Linked DNA regions of Homo sapiens: region 1 is linked to region 2. The links come from fine-mapping of genetic effects on gene expression. Tissue or cell type: whole blood. Region 2 holds a variant in brackets; the other region holds the start of a gene. All regions are shown on one strand. Distances are from middle to middle.

Region 1 (11,462 bases), 19 kb after region 2:
TTCCAGACAGCTGGAGTGCGGTGGTGCCATCCTCTACCTCCTGGGTTCAAATTATTCTCCCACCTCAGCCTCCTGGGTTCAAACTATTCTCCCACCTCAGCCTCCCAGGTAGCAGGGACTACAGGTGTGCACCACCACGCCCAGCTAATTTTTGTATTTTTGGTAGAGATGTGGTTTCACCATGTTGGCCAGGCTCATCTTGAACTCCTGAGCTCAGGCAATCCGCCCGCCTCAGCCTCCCACAGTGCTGGGATTACAGGCGTGAGCCGCCGTGTTTGGCCCCATATCACTCTTTAAAACGAATTAGAATACAAAATATTACAAATAAATTTGTAACTACAATACAGTATAGCAACATAATAGGGACACTAAATCAGGAAATACCAAGGTTCCTGCAGTTTCTTCTACTTTAAATAAAATGTTATAATAATTTCAACTATTCACTTTATATGTGCTATACAGTTCAAAGCAACCTCATGCCTCTCCCTGAATGGTAGGAAGTTAAAATGTGGACTTTGCCACTGCACTTTGACCCTGTTAACTAATATTGTGCAGGCAGCATCCATACTCATTATGTACTATGTCCATAAGGTAAGTATCTTCCAAAAATAAAAATCAGTGTTATTAGCAATGCCTTGCTTTCAACAGAGATTTATTGAATAGCCACACTAAGAGGGATAAAGTGAGAAACGAGATGGACCCTGTCCTCAAGGAGCTTTGGTCTTGGGAAAGATGAAGCATATAATCAAATTGTTGCAATGCATAGTGTAATGGCCAGAGCAGACGAATGTGTAGAGAGGATGGGCGCCTACAGGCTAGGAGGGACTTGAATCTGCCAGGAAGCGGAACAAGTAAGTTTTCCAAAGTCTGTGCAAAAGTTTTGCAGCCACAATTTAACTTGAGCTCAAAACTGTTTTCACACCCTGTAAAAAGAGCAGGTATAGATGAAAGATGAACAATCAGCGATGACCATTAATTATCCCTTCCTATTTCTACGCTCCACAGTGCTGGTGCCATCAGCTCTCTGAGCCCTGGCTCTGTTCTTAATGCATTTTTTTTTCCTTAATATTGGGTGCTGGCCAGGTGCGGTCACTCACGCCTGTAATCCCAGCACTTCGGGAGGCCAAGACAGGCAGATCACTTGAGGTCAGGAGTTGAAGACCAGCCTGGCAAAAATGGCGAAACCCCATCTCTACTAAAAATGCAAAAATTAGGTAGGCTTGGTGGTGCATGCCTTTAATTCTAGCTACTCAGGAGGCTGAGGCAGGAGAATTGCTTGAGCCCAGGAGATGGAGGTTGCAGTGAGCTGACATCGCGCTACTGTACTCCAGCCTGAGTGAAGGAGTGAGACTGTCTCAAAAAAAAAAAAAAAAAAAAAAAATTGGGTGCTGAGGCCAAACTGACTAGCTTGTATTCTACTAATAATCTTCCAAGAGCTGTGCTATATAGTTTTATTTTCTTTTAGCCTTCTTTTTATTTAGAATTATAGTTCCTAACTTTTCAAAATTACTCTTTGCAAACATTTTCCTTCCTTTTAAGATGAAAAGGGAACTTTATCCTGATGTTAGGATTGATCATATAATCTGCATTAAAAAAAAAAAAAAAAAAAAAAAAACTCCAACCGGGCGCGGTGGCTCACACCTGTAGTCCTAGCACTTTGGTAGGCCAAGGCGGATGGATCACCTGAGGACCGGAGTTCCAGACAAGCCTGGCCAACACGGCGAAACCCCTTCTCTACTAAACATAAAAAAATTAGCTGGGCATTGTGGTGGGCACTTATAATCCCAGCTACTCAGGAGGCTGAGGCAGGAGAACTGCTTGAACCCAAGGAGCAGAGGTTGCAGTGAGGCAAGATCCTGCCACTGCACTCCAGCCTGGGTGACAGAGCGAGACTCAGTCTCAAAAAAAAAAAAAAAAAGTCCTCCCAAAATAGCTTTTCAGAAATATGTGACTGCCAAAGTACAGTACAGTAAACCTCTCCACACATGGCTGAATAAACTCTTACAGAACATTGTGGAGAAGAATTTAGATTGGGATGTCAATGTCCTGCCTAGTTAATTAGAGTGTATATACTTCCTTTAGTAGAATAGTGTGTTCTTTTGCAATGATATGTTTCTGAAAGAGGATCTTTAAACAGCACAAGGATTCATTGTTTTCTATTCCTTAATGATTTGGGAAGAACAAATTGTTAATCTATGTAGGCCAAGAATGTTTTCTTAGCATGCCTTGTTTTATGCATTAATTATTCTTTAGTTATTTATTTAGTTTGATTCCTTCCAGGACTGATTTCTTCTTAACAAAAGGACAAATACTAATTCAAATCACTTTGGAAATGACCTAAAAGTCATCAGAAATATCTTGAGTGGAGTTAACACAGTATATAGAACTGTTCAGGAAGTTTTCCTAATTAGTAAACCAGTCTCTTTTCATGTCCTTTGTAGGGACATGGATGAAATTGGAAATCATCATTCTCAGTAAACTATCGCAAGAACAAAAAACCAAACACCGCATATTCTCACTCATAGGTGGGAACTGAACAATGAGAACACGTGGACTCAGGAAGGGGAACATCACACTCTGGGGACTGTTGTGGGATGGGGGGAGTGGGGAGGGATAGCATTGGGAGATATACCTAATGCTAGATGACGAGTTAGTGGGTGCAGCGCACCAGCATGGCACATGTATACATATGTAACTAACCTGCACATTGTGCACATGTACCCTAAAACTTAAAGTATAATAATAAAAAAAAATCTGTGAAGAACAGAGACAGGTAACTTCAGAGATCTTATCTCTGTAAACCTTACATTATTATTATCTGGCATAAACTTACAACAAAAAAACAAACAAACAAACAAAATCCCACCCAGAAAACTTCACTATCCCCATCCTACTCTGCATTGTTATAGTAAGAATTATTGGTAGATGTAGCTGCAGGCACTAGCAAATTACCTTCTCAGAGGACAACCCAGAAAAAACTAGCTACAAAGTGCCCTAGCAAAGTGCCCAATCTTCAGGTTTTGAAGGACTACTGTGTTGCTGCTGTTGTGTGTGTGTGTGTGTGTGTGTGTGTTTGCTAGCAACTTATCAGATTTCCTAAGATTTTCCAAAAAAAAAATGATTTTTAAGTAGCATTTGATAAACACGTCTAAATTAATTATGAAGAGAACTAGGTGGTAAGGATCCTAAAACAGTGGAATGTGTTCCTGAGAGTGACAACAGAATCAGCTACCCAGCCTTTAAAAGGAGAATTTATATCCTTTTAATAACAGTATTAATAATAGTAGGGTGATTCAGGGGAAGTCCTTCAAGAGACAAAGTAATGCAGAGTGACCACTCCAAGTTTCTTTGAATATAAAATTCCATAACAAATGACCTTATTTTTCTTAAAATTGTTCACACATAGTGCAAGGCCTGGGGTTTTTAATTTATTAACAATCTTAAAAAGTCTGTTTAGTTCCTTCTAAACAACAGTTAGCGAGCTTTAGTAAGGCAGAAGTCTGGAAATTGTTCTTCAGCTAGGGGCCAGGCCTTGTACACCTGGTTTCTGAACAATGTGAACTTCAACAATGTGAACAACGTGAACCTCAGTGGAACTGTAAACGTTACCAAATAGAAAAACTGCTATGACCCAATTTCTCTGTACACATGTACCATTTACTTTACAGCCTTGGAGCCTGATAAATAGGAAGTGTCTCATCCTGTTTTCTGGGTTGGCAGTGTTTGCCATGCAGGTAGAATACATGCAGGTCAAATCTCATATTGTGCTAAATCACAGCATTCTGAAAAACTTGGGACCTTGCAAAAGGCCATATCTCAGAAAAGTTACTGCTTCAAATAAATGTGCCATTTTACAAAATTATACCTACTGTATCAGAAAAAAAAAATGTTCTCTCATGTGAGTGACATTTATATGACTGCCATTTGTAGGGAATAGGACATTCTCACATAGCAAGGCTGAAGAATGGTTTTGAAAGCTGAGAGTATTCTCTGAATGATAAATGTGGCAGAACTTTAAGATGCTCCTGTGGGAAGAGACTCTTCCCCCGACAACTGGAGAGTTTCCTTATAAAAATGGAACATGCATTATTATGAAAAAAGTAACCACTGAATTATAGTTGTAGCATTAAGGAGATTTTCTATGTATTTCAAACTTGCAGGCATCTTTAGTCACGGCTTTTCACCTTGTTAGAGTTGAACTTTCTGGATCATCTGGCCCAGTAGCCAGCCTTTTATTTTACATCTGTGGAAACTGAGGCTGAGATAATGAGGTTCTAGTTATTATAGAACTAGGAATAGTATTCTTCCTCCCCTCCCCCATTCTCTATCCAATTCACTTTCTCAGCTCACTGCAACCTCCACCTCCCAGGTTCAAGTGATTTTCCTGTCTCAGCCTCCTGTGTAGCTGGGATTACAGGCACCTGCCACCACGCCTGGCTAATTTTTGTATTTTTAGTAGAGACTGGGTTGCACTATGTTGGCCAGGCTGGTCTCGAACTCCTGACCTCAAGTGATCCATCGGCCTTGGCCTCCCAAAGTGTTGGGATAACAGGCTTGAGCCACCGTACCCAGCCTCAGTACACCAATCTTTTAAAGAAAGTTCCTAAATTACCATCTAGAGGTGGGAAAAAGAATAATAAAATTCTGTCTCTGGACAAACAAACGGAACTGAGGCTTTATTTACTCTTCACAATAAATTATATTCTGAACAATCTTCCTCCAGAAAAATAACCTTTAAATTGCAAGAGGAAATTTAAATCAAGATAAAAAAATGGAAGTGGTTGCAGGTATCAGGACAAATTTTTAGTGCCTGGTCAAGAAGCAGCCTCGGATCTGAGACCTTGGAGACTGACTGCTAAAGCCACATTCTTCCAGCCTACTTTTTGATGGGCGCCCCAAGAGTGCGCCAATCCAGAAGTAAGATGCAGAGAAGAATCTAACCCCTTAATTTTCCCCCTTTGGGCTTGTCTGCACCCTGGGGTAGGGATGAGCCTTAAACTCCAGGAAGTTAGAAGCTTGCTGAATCGCGGAGCAGCCTCAGGTGACTTTCCTCTAAAGTGATGCCGGGGCGCGGCGGGGAGTTTGCAAGCACCTGTTCTTCAGTGCGATGGGCTGGGGAGTGGGGTCCTAGCAGCAGGGACTGGAGGTGAGCTGAAGCAGATAAGGGACGGGAGCCTTGTGGCGAAAAGTGACCCACCTGAGGGAGAGGCGCTTCCAAGGAGGAAGCGTCCAGCGCCAACGGTGCGCGCCGCGGGCCGGGCGGGTAGAGGGAAGTTTCGCCGCGCCTGCAGCTCAGCGCTGTGGCTTGTGGCTCTCGCTGCTATAAGAAGCCAGAGAAGGGCGGGACGGTCTGCTGGATTTCGCAAGAGAAGCGGAAAAGAACTTGTTTCCTGGAAGAGTTCAAGCTGAGAATCCCAGCAGCTGGAAGGACCGGAACTTCTATACTGCGGTGCTGCTGATGGTGCCGCTGACCCCCGGGAAGCGGGGATTTTAAGGGTTACACCCGAGCCCTTGGCATCTGTGCATCCCAGGGTGATTGAGGTTTGGAGAGGTCTAGGAATCCCCCTTTCCTAAAGGAGCAAGAAGGATCTCTTTGAGTAGCTGAGAAAACAGCACCTGGACTAGGCTTCTAGGCAATTCTTTTGCCATCTTGTCTCAGTTTATAGAAAAGGTGGTATCTTTCCCCTCCGCCTGGAAGCCATGGGTTCTTATGGGGCTCATAACTTGGAAGATCTTGAGTTTTCAGGTCTTAATTTAGGTAGATTAAAGAAATAAAACAAATGAAAGAGGGATCGGGATACCTTATGATATACATGCAAATGTGTCTTTCTACAGAGAAGGTCAAAAACCACAGCCCTGGTTGTTTAAGATTGAAATAATCCTGATAAACTATGGGGCAAAGCATCCATACACTCCCAAACTCTGTAATCTAAATCCCAGAGTCTTCCCAATGATCTCCACTCAGCCATGGGTCTTAAATTCCACAGCATACGCTTGCCAAGCTCCAGAGGCCCGGCCACATGGGAGGCCTGTTCCTCCCATGGAAAGGGGTTGTTGAGTCAACCTTCCCTTTGTCTGGATTGCAACTCTCCTCATAGCTTCTTGTGGGGTTGGTCAGACCCCATGTCTTTCAAGAGGTCTTTTCTTAGCCATTAGTTGCAATTAATATTTTCTTTCTCTATACAGTAGTTTATACTTTTAGCACAGCAATTAAGACAATTTGCCTTTCAAAAGAGTTATTATCATGTGTGTGTGTCTTGTCCTGGACTGCAGTCTTCGAGGGATGACACCCTAGTTTTTTCAGTCTGGAATTTTCCATAACACCTAGCAAAATGCATTACTTAACAATGGGGATTTATTCTGAGGAATGCCTCATTAAGCAATTTATTAAATATATTCTGAGGAATGTCTCATCAAGCAATTTCGTCATTGTGTGAACATCATAGAGTGCACTTACACAAACCTAGATGGTATCACCTACTACAGGCCTAGGCTAGATGGTATATAGCCGATTGCTCCTAGTCTACAAACCTGTTCAGTATGCTACTTTTCTGAATACTGTAGTCAGTTGTAACACAATGGTAAGTATTTGTGTATCTAAGCATAGAAAAGGTATAGTAAAAATGTGGTATAAAAGATAAAAAATGGTATACCTGTATGGAACACTTACCATGAATGGAGCTTACAGGACTGGAAGTTGCTCTGGGTGAGTAAGTGAGAGAGTGTGAAGGCCTAGGATATTACTATACACTACTGTAGACTTTATAAACACTACATTTAGGCTATGCTATTATAAGAAATATTTTTCTTCCTTCAATAGTAAATTACCCTTAGCTTTCTGTAACATTTTTACTTTTTAAACTTCTAAGTTTTAAAAAACTTTTTGAGTTTTGTAATAACGCAGCTTAAAACACATATTGTACAGTGTGTACAAATAGTTTTTGTCTTTATATCCTTATTCGATAAGCTTTTGTCCCGTTTTTAAAAGTTTTAATTTTTTTGCTAAAAATGAAGACACAAACACACATATTAGCATAGACCTACACAGAATCAAGATATGTGATATCACTGTCTTCCACCTGTATGTCTTTTGTTACTGAAAGGTCCTCAGGGGCAGTAACATGCATGGAGCTGTCTTCTGTGGTAGCAATGCCTTTTTCTGGAATATCTGCTGAAAGACCTTCCTGAGGCTGTTTTACAGTTAACTTTTTAAAAAATACAAGTAGAAGGAGTACACTCAAAAATAATTTAAAAGGTACATATAATAAATACATAAGCCAGTAACATAGCTATTTATTATCATTATCAAGTATTATATACTGTACATAATTGTACATGCTATACTTCTATATGACTGGCAGCATAGTAGGTTTCTTTACACCAGCATCACCACAAATGTGAGTAATGTATTGCTCTGTGATGTTATGACAGCTACAGTGTCCCTAGGCAAGAGGAATTTTTCAGCTCCATTATAATTTTATGAGACCGTTATTATATATGCAGTGCATCATTGACCGAAACATTGTTAGGTGGTGCGTGAGTGTAATTGGTACTGAATATTTATTGCACTCATTAATTAATAAATCTACTGCCAATTATTATATTTTGCAAAAAATTCATCCGATAGTATTCTTTGGCCAGGGAAGAACTTAAAATATTCATTGATTTTATAGCATCTGATTTTCCCAGTTTGCAGACTAATAGGCAAGAGAGGGGTGTGCACCCATGGAAGAAGGTCCGCTGCGTGTCCCTAAGAGTCTTCATAGATGGTCAACACAGTTTTGGAGACTTGCCCTTTGTCTACCATTTGGTTTTAAGCCTTGATGGGCACAGAAACTTGATAAGCACACTGAGCCTGAAACAACCAAAATGGTGACTTGTTAGTTGTTAATGGAATATAAAGCAAATAGTTATTGTAAAAATACAGTTGCTAAGGGCACCAGACATTATGGCCATCACATTCTCTCCATGTAGACATATCCTGTGGAAGCTATTTTATATGCAGAAGGCTGCTGGATAAACAGACGAGTGAGTTATAAAATTCCAAGGTTTACTGACATCTGGTTAAGAGAGTAGCTATATCGATGCATGCCATTTAGAAGCAGAAGCTGGGGTCTATGGACCAGGTCACTCTGGTTTCTAGGTGGTGTTTGGATCCATTATGAGTTGACATAATGGACAACCATATTCTCGAATGCATCCTCTGAGTAATAACAGAATCATTGCTTTATAAACTTATTATTATTAGGTAGATAAAAAATTTTGAAATGTGATTTTTATGAGAGGCAGATATATTTCAGTTATGCAAGTTCTTTTCTTTGCCAAAGGCAACTGGAGTCCTAGAAAAGGAAGATTAAATTACTGGGATATGAAGGATGGAAAAAAAATGCCTTTATTAGTGCAAAACTTAAGAGGCATTTGACGTATTTATCTTGTGGTTTAAAGATTGATTTTCCCCTTGGGCCTAGGAGGGACACACAGTTCATAACTCTCCTAGTCTTTCCGTAAACCCTTGCCATAGGGGAAAATTAAGCTTCCCAAAGATGCCAGCAACCTGAGTACCCAAGGACTTCCTGTGGGCAGGATTCATCTTTCTTCCTGTAGTTTTATACTCAGAGCTCCAGATAAACCTTCCCAGATGTTGTGCACCACCAAATTGTTCTTATTTAGGGATTTCCACATTTACTGTGCCCCTGAGTCTTTCCTGCTACTTCCTCTCTCCTCATCCTACTATGTCAAAGGCCCCAAATGGTAGAATTTAGGCAAACTGATGAAGTAGGCCTAGAGCCAGTGTTCATTAAATGTTATTAAGTGATTGAAAAAAAGTTACCCTTAACATTTTGTATCTCCCTTTCAATGCCATTTTTCTCCTTTTCTGGGGCTCCCCTCTGCACTATCTTGTGTCTTGGGCATTTATCCCTCTTCCGCAAGTCCTCTCCTTACAGTGTTCCACACCTTCTTATTGGGGTGGGGTGGAGCTTTCAACACGTGCTGGACCAGGAGGTGACTGACTTGATAGTCTATAATTAGCATGTGTATGCGAATCTTTTATTGACTTAAAGATTTGCCCTCTAGCTGTTTTTGAAAAAAAAATTTTTTTTGAAGGACTCCTAGAGATGTCTCTGTCTAACCCCCAGAAATGAATCTCTATGGCAGGGATTTCAGGCGCTCTGGGAGATATATTTGAATATTGGTGTAAGGAATATTTTGTCTTTTGCTTACCTAGCATCCAGGACCAGGACTAAGTGAGGTGAATGAGGAGGCTAGGACACCAAATCTGTGGAGGTGCTCACTCAAAACCCAGTCTGCACGAACCTGAAAATAAATGACTTCTTAAATGTTTTTCCTTTGGTGCCTTCCTTGCCTGCTCTAGTCCTGGTCCTGCAGCATCCATTTCTCTTTGCTAATTATATCTTCATTTTCGTTTGATAAACGCCCTTGCACAATCTTGATCCACGTGGTTCAAGTTGAACCAATGGCACTGGGGTTCCAGGATCAGGCACCTGACTTAGACCTGGCCATTCAAAGCACAAAGCCTTGTCCACAGTGATTGGTCCAATGATGGCATGTGACCTGAGTTGGGCCAATAGGAATCTTTCCTGGAACAACCTGGGAAGCAGCACACTCTTTACAGAGGGTTGTCGGACTGCTAAAAAGCAAGCCTGGGTCACTGTGAGGAGAAAGTCAGCCTGAGAAAGAGGCCACTTCAGGGGAAAAGAGAGCAAAGAGATGAGAAGAGACAGATTTCTGCAATTGTTAGAGTGCCATATCTGAAGAAAGCTGTATACTCTGGGCTTTTTAGTGACATGAGTCAGTAATTGAATGTCTGTTATTTGTATAAAATGGGATTGGGTAGGATGAGAAAGGCACCTGCTCAGTCAGACTTCTGTGACTGTAATGCCTACTGAGGTGGCTTCATCACAACATGTGGTCAGAATGAGGAAGGCATGTGTTGTTAAAAAAAGCAAAACAAAGGCCTTTCTGAGTTTTCTTGTAGTAGCTTTGGGACTTGGATAAATAATCAATTTCTGTGACTGAAGTTTTTCAGCTACTTCCTGGTATATTCAGAAATCATTTTCCTGTCTCAGAAAACTTTTTTTCTACTTCTTTCCTATTTTAGTGGGGGTGGACAGATAGAATCCTTCTCCTCCTTTTTCCTGAAACTGCAAAGGGTATAGTGAAGAAGCCAGGCCATTGACCTGGTTTTAACCAATTTCTAGGACTCCTGCCAACACAGACCAGGAAGCAAAACCAAACAACATTTTACTGCCCACCTGCACCCAAAAAAAGTACTGATGGGAAAATACGTCAGACACTGACAGTATTGGAGTCTGGACTAGGGATAATGTCAGGAATGACAATAAAGAACTTAAAAATAAGACCTAAAGAACTTGACTTTAGGTTCAAGAGGAGGTTGAAGAGAAGAGTTGAGTATGTGGGATAAGTGAATAATAATATTTTAAAACATCACTGACAAAGCCTAGAAGTGACAGACAGTTGCAGCTACTTCTGGGAATTGAAAATAGGCAAGGAAACCCTTTCCTCTTTATCTGGGTCTCTGATTCCCTGGGTCACAAGGTCTGTGTTAATTTTGGAAGCTTCTAAGGCACTGGCAGGGCTATGGACTGACTATCACCAATAGGAATCTGGAGGCGGCCCAAGACCACATCTGCTGACCTCAGAAGAGGTCACTTAAATACGATGTTACCAAAGAACAAGATGTGCAAAATAATTTGAAGAGATGGAGAAATATTTGAGTTAATTTTTTGATAAATGCAGCTGGCATTAATAGAGATGTTCTTTCTGTAATTCAAAAACTGAAGATGTGTCATCTGCTTTCACCCCAGCCTGCTGGTACACGCCATGATATATGAAGCTGCTAGCAGAGCTATGAATCAATAGTTGATTGGTAGTTACTGTTAGTACTGGAAGTATTATTGGCAACAGCAATTCCAGTCCAGGCAATTTGTGCCTAGTGCCAGTAAAGGAAGGTTAGTTAGATTTTTCACATGCTAAAGAGGAGACAAAAATAAATTTAAAAATATTAGAGTGAATGAGGTCCTGTTCACTTTCAAATAGAGTTAGCAGGGAAAATAGTATAAAACCAATCACAGGAGGAAAAGCAAAAGAGAAGAATACTGAAAATATGAGGCTATTTTTTTTTCTCCATTTTCTAACTGTAAAGATCAATTACTTGCTAAAAGTTATTTTCTTTTTTGGGGTTTCTTTAAAGATAATTATATATATTATTTTTATACTGGTAGTATTAACTATAGATGATTCTGTAGTACCAAATACAGATGATTTATGTTCACAGAGTGTTTGCTAAACAATTTATTTAGTTACTGTAGATTGTTTTACATTATATAACACTTTAGTTTAAATAATTAACTAAAATATTTAAACAATTAATGCAAAATTCAAGATATAAATGGGGTATGTTGAAAAGCTGTTTTCTGCAG
Region 2 (11,125 bases):
TACATAATATCGAATAGGAATCACAAGTGTGTAGAGGACATGAAGGAAGGCAAATCCCAGAGCTACCAAGCCAAGCTGCTTTCGGCAAAGCATCCAGTGGTCAAGCCAGTCTGGGAATCGACGGTATTTTGTGCCTCGGTACAGTTGTAGAATGGCAGCAATAACACCAGGGAGGTAAACCAAAGCAAGCAGTGTAAGTGCTGTTATTGGAAAGATACGATTTGGAATGGAAATAGCCATACGAAATGTATTATCTTTCTTTTCATAAACATAAGGGTAGATTACGTCTCTTATAACACAATAGAAAAACAAGAAGACACACAGCACAGCAGACAAATAGAAGGGGAACCTCCACATTGGAAATAGCTGCAGGGGGTACTTTTCAATTTCTTTGGCTGCCATGAGTGATCCTTGATCCATTGGAGTAAGTCCAAGATTACGAACAATATCCATCACTCTTTGCTTGGCTTTGCTGTCATTTCCACACACAAACACCTAGTTTAAAAACAGTTAATTAATTCTGTATTTACTCCTTTTCCTTATTTAATAATTATTTTGAAAGGCTACAACAGCACCATGCCAAATGATGACGTAAAACAGTGAACCGATTTTAAAATAAGGATGTAGAATTAACATATGTAACAAGATGTTTTAAACTTGTATGTGGTGTCTTAGATAGGTAAGTACCAGGGTTTTTAGTTGATGATGGTTTTAGGCACATCACACTTATAAAAGACATGGTTCTCCACACTGTGAGTAGTTTGATCTTCTGTGTTTGTGGTGCCGCATCACTTATGAATGCTTCTAATCTCAGTGTATAAATGGAACCAGTTTCATACAAGGTAATGGAAGCAGAAAAGGATATTCACCAAGTATTAGTTTCTAGTACTGACAAGAAGCCTCCAGAGGCTGACACCATGGGGTTCCATCAAACTAAAATCTGAGGGTGCAGACAGTGGGAGATATAACAGTTGACCACCTTATTTGGTCAAGCTCAAGAAAATTATTCACAGCACATATTAGCAAAATGTAATATTTAGTGGGCATTTCATCTTGGAATTATATTTTGGAATCTTTGAGGCAAGTGCACATTTAATGATTCATGTTTTAAAGATTGAGTGTAAATTTGTTTATTCTTACCTGCCGACTTGCATCCAGTGCTCCTGACTGGAGAGCCCAGGCTGAGATGGTGTTAAATGCTTTTACCACGTGGGCTCCTGGCACCAAATGAGCAAGGTACTCTGCATTAGATTCTGGATATTGATTGATTTTGAGGTTGTTGCTGATGTCTACCAATATTTTTCCATTGAGAACCTCAGTTAATTCTGTGAGAAAATCATAATGCTCTCTGTGGATTGCTATGATTATGATGCCAGACTTCTTGGCTGCTTCTGAATAGCTCAAGACTTCTGCACCACTGGGCAGTAGGGTGGTCTTCTGGGGGTTTCGACTTCCAAAAACAACAGAATAACCACACTGGAGCATTTTCAATCCCAGTGATCTTCCAAAATCACCAGTTCCAAAAATACATACAGTCTCTTGCTTTTCTGAAGAATTCATAGTAAGAGGAAGTGCATCTATACAAGTTTTCTCCATAACTGAAAAATAATAACACAAATGCCCAACAAAATATAAATGCTCTGTGCCTGGAAAATTAAAGAGAGCTATATTCAAGAAGTAATGTAATTGACTTGTTGTAATCTAATTATCTTAACTATATTTACCCCCAAATTTGGAAGGAGTAAAAATTGTCATATATATTTCCCCCCAAATTTGGAAGGAGTAAAAATTGTCATATATCTTTTCATATGTGTCTTATTTAACAAAATCACTGGTGAAAAGCTTCTGTTTGATAAAAGGATACAGGGCAAAATCTGACAAAAAATATGCTCCAATAAATTATAGATAAATTCACTTGTTTAGTGATACCAAAAAAAACTAAATAAAACATTAGCAAACACAATCCAGCAGCTTGTTAATAGAAGGTTTATGTTGATCAAATGGGGATTATTCTACAAATGTGAAGATTAGTTCTATAAATTCAATTTTTGAAACTTCATTAATATAACTTAAAAGATTAAAATTTAATTTTATATTAAAAGATTTAAGGAAAAAGTCTGTCATATCTGTGTATGTTAAAAGGACATCTGTTAAAATTCAACATTTATTCTTGATTCATAGTGAAAGAGAAATACATAGATATTTCCTTAACATATAAAAATTATTGATCTTAACCTAAAATTCAGCATTATGCCTAAAAACATTAGTAGAAACATTTCCAACAAAGTCAGGAACCAGACAAATACATCTGCTATGACCACTTTAGTTATTGTTCTGAAAGCTCTAACATAACTAGATCAGAGAAAGAAATCAGAGGTACAGAAATTCAAAAGGGATTCCAGATGATCGAACTAGATCAAACTTTAAAAACTGGGAAAATCAACCAAAAAAGTATCATACATACAAAAATAATTCAACATCTAGGCTGGGAACTCGATTAAAATAAATATTCTTCATATATTAAAAAAGAAACCAGTAAGAAGATTTAATACATGAAAGGATCCTACTTATAGCTGCAACAAAATAAAGACAATATGTAACAAGATAGCAAGATATGTGCAACATATGTATGAAAAATATTTTAAATGCTCTTAAGAATCAGGAGAAGAGAACTTATATAAAAGAAAATGTACAGCATGTTCTTGGATGGCAAGGCTCACACAACGTCAGTTTTCCCTAATTCTATAAATTCTGAAAAGTAGGTTAATAAATGGGATGCTAGTCATATTAAATATTAAAATTTTTATAAAGCTAAAATAATTAAATAATGTGGTACTATCAAAGAAATGGATAAAGTTCTGGCCAGGCACAGTGGCTTATGCCTGTAATCCCAGCACTTTGGGAGGCCAAGGCAGGTGGATCACTTGAGGCCAGGAGTTTGAAACCAGCCTGGCCAACATAGTGAAATCCCATCTCTACTAAAAATACAAAAATTAGCTGGGTGTGTTGACACGCGCCTGTAATCTCAGCTACTCAGGAGGCCACAGCACTCCAGCCTGGGCGACAGAGAGAGACTTTGTCTCAAAAAAAAAAAAAAAAAAGAAAGAAAGAAAAGAAAAAAGAAAAGTAGAAAAATTTTAATGAATAAGTTTTAAAAAAATTCAGAAATGGACCCAAACACATATGATAAAAATAGCATCTCAGGTCAATGAGAAAACAGATTATTTAATAGCTAAT[G/A]TTGTAATGACCCAACAGGTTTGCCTTGCCTGCTACCTAGACAGAGCTGATTTCTTCATATGAAAGAACATTTCAGCTCTTTATGAGAGTCCCGAAAGTTTTTTCCTTTATTTTAATGTCATAATCTCCAAGGTTATCAGAAACTTGCATTCAAGAGCACCTGTCAAAGTTTTATAGCTGATTATAAAACCATCTCCTAAAGAGGACCAAATCAAGACAACAATTGTCTGCAGATGACAGAAATGTTTTAGGGAAGCCGCAGTCAAAGAAATTGACAAGGAAATTTGTTACCTCTGTGGCACACAAAAATTCAACATAACAATTATAATTATTACTGATAACATATACTGAGGCATATTAGAATTATAGAAATCTTATACAATTTTATAACACATACTAATAACATATTTATATGAGTATAACTCAAAGAAAGTTAAACACCATTTTATATTTGACAATGTTTCCTGCATGATTTTAATACATTAAATAAGCCTAATATATCTTTTTGAACTTCAGGATATCTAATTTTTTTTTTTAAACTTATAATTTGATCTTGGAAGGTTTGTCAAATATCAAAGATTTAAAACACTGGATATCACAAAATAGAGTCCCGTGTCACCATAAGTCATTCATTTACCCAAAATGATAACTCAGGGCTGGGCATGGAGGCGCACGCCTATAGTCCCAGCTACTCTGAGGCTGAGGCATGATAATTGCTTGAACTTGGGAGGTGGAGATTGTAGTGAGCTGAGATTGCACCACTGCACTCCAGCCTGGGCAACAGAGTGAGACTCTGTCCCCTGCCCCCAGAAAACTGCTGTGAGCAATTCCTTCAGGGCCCTCCATACATATAAACACACACACACACACACACACACACACACACACACACACACACGCAAACAATGTAAGATGAACAGAAGGCCTTCAAGACACAGATTCCAGACCCAGTCTCAAACCAAGAGTAGTCCTCCAAACAAGTTCCTTAGTCTCCATCCAATTAGACAACCCCTAATGGGGCTACAGACAGACACTCTGTAATGGGGCTACAGCTACAGACACCTTGTAATGGAGCTACAGGCAGATACCTTGTGATAGGGCTACAGACAGACACCCTGGGAGGTTACTAAGAGACAGCAGCACCTCCAGAGAGGCCAATAAATCAGGAGAAGGAAGGGGCTGTTGGTAGCTGCCTGGAATACTCACCAAATCAGACACCTTGCATTGAGGCTACAGCTACAGACACCCAGTGATGAGGCTACAGTTATGAGATATCTCCCTAGCATTACTTCTCCACTGCAATTGAATCCATGCACATTGGGTCAGCAGCACCCCACTGGCAGAGAGTGCCAGAGTCAGCCCCTAGTCCAAGAGAACTAGGTGGCCACTTGGGTTGGCCTCCAGATCCATCACCAGAGGTGGGCTACAGAGCAGGTAACAACAAAGGCAATCCTGGTCGAGCCCCCAAATTTGTAACTGCCCAATGGATTCACCTTGCCTGCTGCCTAGACAGAGCCAATTTATCATGACAGGGGGATTGCAATGGAGAAGGAGTAATTCAGGCAGAGCTGGCTGTATGGGAGACACGAGTATTATTATTACACAAATCAGTTTCCCAGAGCACGAAGATCAGAGTTCTTAAAGATAATTTAAATTAAAATAGGAGCTCGAAAGTGGGAAGTGCTGATTGGTCAGGTTGGAGATAGAATTATAGAGGGGATCGCAGAAGTGGTTAAGCCAGATTACCAATCTGGGTGGTGTCAGCTGATCCATCCAGTGCAGGGTCTGCAAAATATCTCAAGCACTGATCTTAGGTTTTATAATAGTAATGCTATCCATAGGAGCAATCTGGGGAAGGTCAGACTCTTGTAGCCAGAGGCTGCATGACCCCTAAAATGTAATATCTAATCCTGTAGTTAATCTGTTAGTCCTACAAAGGCAGACTGGTCCCCAGGCAAGAAGTGGGTCTTTTTGGGAAAAGGGACATTATCAATTTTGTTTCAGAGCCAAACCATAAACTAAATTCCTTCCCAAGGTTAGTTCTGCCTGCAACCAGGAATGAACAAGGACAGCTTAAAGGTTAGAAGCCAGATGGAGTCAGTTAGTTCTGATCTCTTTCACTGTCATAATTTCTTCAGTTAGAATTTTTGCAAAGGTGGTTTCAACGTTGGGGCAACTCAAGAGTTACCTGAAAGAAAAAAATAAATTTATACCTTATACTCCACCCCAAGGTAAATTCAAAATAAATTAAAGATTTATTTTATTTATTTATTTTGTGAGACAGAGTTTCGTTCTCGTTGCCCAGGCTGGAGTGCAATGCTGTGATCTTGGCTCACTGCAACCTCCGCCTCCCAGGTTCAAGTGATTCTCCTGCCTCAGCCTCCAGAGTAGCTGGGATTATAGGCATGTGCCACCATGCCTGGCTAATTTTGTATTTTTAGTAGAGACAGGGTTTCTCCATGTTGGTCAGGCTGGTCTCGAACTCCTGATGTCAGGTGATCCGCCCACCTCAGCCTCCCAAAGTCCTGGGATTACAGGCATGAGCCACTGTGCCCAGCTAAAGATTTATTTTTAGAAAAATGAAACTAGAACAGAACTAGAAGAAACCATGGAACATTCTTTTATAATCTTAGAGGGGAAGGTCCTCTTCCTACATCATTAAACCATTAACAAATAGTTGGACAAATGTGATTGCATAAAAATAAATAACTTCTGCAATGCAAAACCGCTAAGCAATGTCATAATGAAGATAATCAACGAACTGGAAAAAATATTTTTCAACTCATATAAATCAATGAGAAAAAAACAATTGCCCATTAGAAAATTGGGCAAAGAATATGAGCTGATAGTTTATCCTAAGGAAATATATAAAAGACTTCTAAACACAGTAAAATATTCTTAATATTACCCAAAACTAAAAAAAAATGCAAGTTAAAACTAAACTGAAATACTGTTATGAACCATGTGGCTGTAGAATTTAAATAAAAAACAAACCAGTTTGTATGATCTCCTGCAATAATCTAGGTTGTTTTTTATACTTTTGAAGAATATCTTTTCTTTCAGTATTGAATTTTTCTCAAAAATGTTTCTTTTCCAATATGTAGTTTAAGCTTTCAGTTAATCTTTTATTTTTTTTGGTGCATGCATGCGCGTGTGTGTGTGTGTGTGTGTATGTGTGTGTGTTTGTGTGTGTCTATTGTTCAATGATGTATCTTCAGTGCTCAGAAAAGCACTAACTACCACAGTCTAGGAAATTTATAAATATTCGTTGAACTATATTAAAAGGGTGGGATGAAGGGGCTGGAAGTACAAAAGTTTACTCTGTGTCCCAGGCACAGTGTGAGATAAATAAAAAGGAAGATGCTGAATGATTAAAGAGTAACCAATGGAGAAGAGTAAGAAAGAAGGAAAGAAGTGGAAGAGATGTTGTAAGGACATTATTTCTTTCACCCAAATGGGTTGAAAGTAAAACTCTGTGAATTTGATGCAGAATTTTCAAACCAGACTTAATCACTACTCAATTCTCCTATGGTGGATTTCATGCAGATTGCACAGTGTATGTAGAGTTTGCACCTTTTTCCTGGGGTTTCAGAAATTTGTGCTTTCCATTTTAGCCTATCAAAAACACCTATATTCTTACCGGAGCTTATCTGAAGTTGCACGCCTCCATCAAAAGCAGAGCATTTAGGCCTTTGTAGGGAGGTAGAAGTTATGGGAGAAAGGGACAAGAAATACAGGACATTCCTGCACTCCCACAGAAACTCTGAATAATCTAATTAAGTACATCTGAATCATTTTATAAACAAACTGGCGACTGATATCCTGAATGGGTGTCATCAAAGGTCATGACCACATGTGGGGAAGTACCTGTAGATGATCAGGGAACTTTGTATAAAAGTGCAGCTGTGCCTTTGAAAATTTCTTACTAGCATCTGCACATGCAGACTAGTTTAGCAATTTACCTTCTATTGGTTGATTGCCAATCAGTTAACACCTAGTTTTATAAATCAAACCTTCAAACTGCTGAACAATGCCTTCATTATTCTACTGTAGAACTGGTTTGTGTCACAAAAGAATGTGTGACTGCCTATCTCCTCACTTAAAAAAATTATTTTATCCTAATATTTTTATTCTCTCTTTCATACTGGATGAACATTTGCAAGCAAAATGTAGATTTGATGCAGTTGCCAGTATCCTGTAATGAGATGGATTTTGTTAACTGAAATATTCTCATTTGGATTATCTTAATCATTGCAAAGAGAGAGTGATTCCAGACCATTTTGACTATTTGGTCACTATATTCATTTATTCTAATCTTTCATAAATTTTTTAATGAAGATATTGACTTCATGGTCCTATTTTTTGCTTTGCCTCTTACCAGCAATGTCACCTTGAGAAAGTTACTCAAACTCTGTGTCTCAGTTTCATCATCTGTAAAATGAGGGATTGCTAGTACCTACTTGAAAGATACTGCGAGTGAGGACAGCAAAAATCAGCTAATGACCATGAACAGGTACTGGAGACAAAAAACTCCGTATCTGAGGAATTTAGAAGTATCATGAAGGGAGCAAAGAACACCTGGTGACCATCAACTAGGCCATCAGAGGCAAAACTCCGTATCGAGGGAATTTAGAAGTATTTAAAATTCTCTAGTATCTAAATAGGCATCTGGTTCCAGGCCTCTTTCAAAAAAATTTCTAAGTAACTAAAATTTCTATACATCTCCAGAACGCTATGCTGAAACTCATTGTGCAACCCTTGCTGACACAAAGGCACCAAAATGACTATAAATGTCATCATTTATCATGACCTGTCTGGCTAATATGGTCCAAATTACCCTCAAGCTTCTGTCTTAAGGTCCATAAATGCTCCCAAGGAGAATCCACCATGGCCCACTCAGTTCTATCTTGCTAAGGCGCCCTGCTGCACTCTTCTGCAGTGTTCTTTCTTTCTACTAAAACTTTCCTTTTTCAAACCTATTCTGTTGTTATTAAATTCTTCTTACCAACTCGCAAGTCGACCACTTTCAGATGCTAGGGCTCTCACACCTCGCCCGGCAGTGAAAATTAGATGAATTCCTGCATCTCAAAACAGTTCTTGAGACCTAGTAAGTGTTTAAGAAAATGGGTATTTTAAATAGATTGGTAATCTATTAGTTATTGAATCAAGTATCTAATTAATGTAGCCTTTATATAAACTTTACAAATTAAGGGTTAATTATGCTTATATAACTATGATTATTATAAATATATAAAAAATATCTGAACTAGAGTGCAACGATTCTTAAGAATCTCCTACTTGTCCCACTTATTTCTTATAAATAAAACTCTATATAAAATGGCGTTTGAGGATCACTTGAGGTCAGGAGCTCGAGACCAGCTTGGCCAACATGGTGACACCCCGCCTCTACTAAAAATACACAAAAAATTAGCCAGGTGTGGTGGAACACACTTGTAATTCCAGCTATTGGAGAGGCTGAAGGGGAAAGATCGCTTGAACCTGGGAGGTGGAGGCTGTAGTGAGCCGAGATCGCACTGCTGCACTCCAGCCTGGGCAACAGAGCAAGACTCCATCTCAAAAAGAAAAAAAAAAAAAAAGAAAAGAAATAGATATATGCACACTCTCAACCACAAGGGAGATCAAGTTGAGGGTGCATTTTGCATTAGGTACTATCTAAAGAATGCTGCTACACCCTTTTCAGGCATCTTGAAACTCAAAATAGCTGTGTGTAAATATACGTTCATGGAGGTTCCTTGTTCAAAGACTTAAAAAAGTTTTCTAGTCCTACTTTACTCTTATATCCAGGATAGAAATAATAAAGAAAATAATAAAAAAGGTAGTAAACAGGAAGAAGAGTTATTAAGGGAAACGTGGGTTAAAATAGTTAAAACACAACATAGGGGTTTCCTCTCCTTCCTTCAGTCTCATGGGCTCTCCACAAACCTCAGTTATGTAACAGGAAATACAACAGAAATATTTCTGGGTTTGGAAAATCTGCAGGACTGGTTTTGCCTCTTATGGAATCATTTCCCAGAGATGACAGCCAAGATGCGTAAAGTGATCTCACAAGGGTGTTTACATAGATTAGGAATTAGCAATCAGTGACGCAGATACAAAGGTGGCAAAGATGACAATGAAGGCCATGGTAGCAGCTGACTCTGAGAAACCATGTGTGTGTGTGCGCGCGCGTGTGTGTGTGTGTATGTGAGTGTGTGTGTCATATGAGGGACCAAGTGTGGGTCAGGAGGAGTCCTGCTTATCATCCCTCTCTTTGCAGATCTCACCCCACAGGCCTTGGAAACCTGAGGCAGTATTCTTCTGGGATGTTTCCAACTAGGCTTCCCATGAGGATGTTAGAGCCAGCCTGGCTGGTGAATTTTACTTCTCTCACCTCTCAGAGGTAAGAGGTCTGAGAGGCTCAGGCCCTTCCAGCTTTTGAGGATTCCAGCATAGTAGAAACATAAAAAGGTCCAAAGGGAATTACAAAAATAATCTATTTTCAGTTCTTATACTTAACAAGTCAATTCTTATTAAAAAAATAAATCAATCAAACTTTTGTTTGATATAATTATAGATTCCAAGGAAGTTGTAAAGATAGTACAGGAGGTCCCTGTGCATCTTTCACCCAGTTTCCTCCAGTTTTATGCCACTAGAGTACAATATCCAAACCAGGACATTGACATTGGAGCCATATGCATGTATATTTCCATGTCATTTTATCTCATGTGTATGCTCATGTACCCATCACTTCAATCAGGTTAGAGACTAGACCATCCCTCATGCTGCCCTCTGAACTACCAACCCTAACCCGTGGAGGTCATTAATCTGTTCTTTATCACTACAATTTGGTCATTTTGAGAATGAATAAAATCACACAGTAATGCAAGCCTTTTGAGACTAGCATTTTTTCACTCAGCATAACATACTTAAGATCCATCAATAATTCTTCCATTTTATTGCCGAGCGGTATTCTACAGTATAGATATACTAAAGTTTAACTCTTCATCTAAGGTAGGACATTTTGGTTGTTTCCAGTTTTGGCTATTACAAATAAAGCTTCTATGAGTATTCACCTACAGGTTTTTGTGTGAAAATAAGTTTTCATTTCTCTGCGATAAAGACCCCGGGATACAAATTCTGGGTCATATGGTGTTTGTTTAGCATTCTAAGACTTGGCTATACTGACTTCGAATGTGTACTAATTTACCCCTTACCAGGTATTTATGAGTCATGATTTTTTATTTTAGCCATTCTGATATTTCATTGTGGTTTAAATTTGCATTTGTTTAATGGTTAATTATGTTGCATATCTCTTAATGTGTTTATTTGCTCTCTGTGTGTCCTCTTTGGTGAGAAGTCTCTTCATGTATTTTGCTTATTTTCTAATTGGACTGTTTGGGTTTATTTACTGTTGAGTTTGACAATCTTTATATATTCTACATATGAGTCTTTTGTCAGATATGTGATTTGCAAGCATTTTCTGCCAGCCTATAGCTTGTTTTTTTCATGTCTTAACACATCCGAAGTCATAAAACAAACATTTTTTAATTTGATGATGTCCAATTTATTTAATTTTTTTTCTTTCATGGATTGCGCTTTCAGTATCTTACCCAAAAACTCTTCACAAAGCCCTAGGTCCTGAATGTTTTCTTCTAAAAGTTTTACTTATAAGTCTATGATCCATTTTAAGTAATTTTCATACATAGTGTAAGGTTTAGGACAAGGTTTATTTTTTGACCTATGAATACATAACTACTCTTCTACCATTTGTTGAAAAGACTATCCTTATTTTTTGCTGAATTGCTTTCACATTTTTGTCAAACATCAGTTATACATAGAGGTGTGGGTCTATTTCTGCATTCTCTATTCTGTTCCATTGATCTATGTG

What was found.
Region 1: it holds the start of STEAP4, and the variant in region 2 is fine-mapped to the expression of STEAP4 in whole blood (INTERVAL, PIP above 0.99).

Annotation. Positions count from the first base shown.
Region 1 is chr7:88,301,595-88,313,056 of GRCh38, forward strand. STEAP4 (STEAP4 metalloreductase) reads right to left here and starts at 5,300. Exons shown (of 5, transcript NM_024636.4): 1 at 5,198-5,300. All of the region lies in intron 1 of LOC124901692 (a long non-coding RNA gene), which reads left to right.
Region 2 is chr7:88,282,674-88,293,798 of GRCh38, forward strand. STEAP4 (STEAP4 metalloreductase) reads right to left here. Exons shown (of 5, transcript NM_024636.4): 2 at 1,141-1,598; 3 at 1-495. The coding sequence starts at 1,596. It overlaps LOC124901692 (a long non-coding RNA gene), which reads left to right and starts at 8,814. Exons shown (of 2, transcript XR_007060420.1): 1 at 8,814-9,637. The variant G/A (reference allele first, on the strand shown) is at 3,238.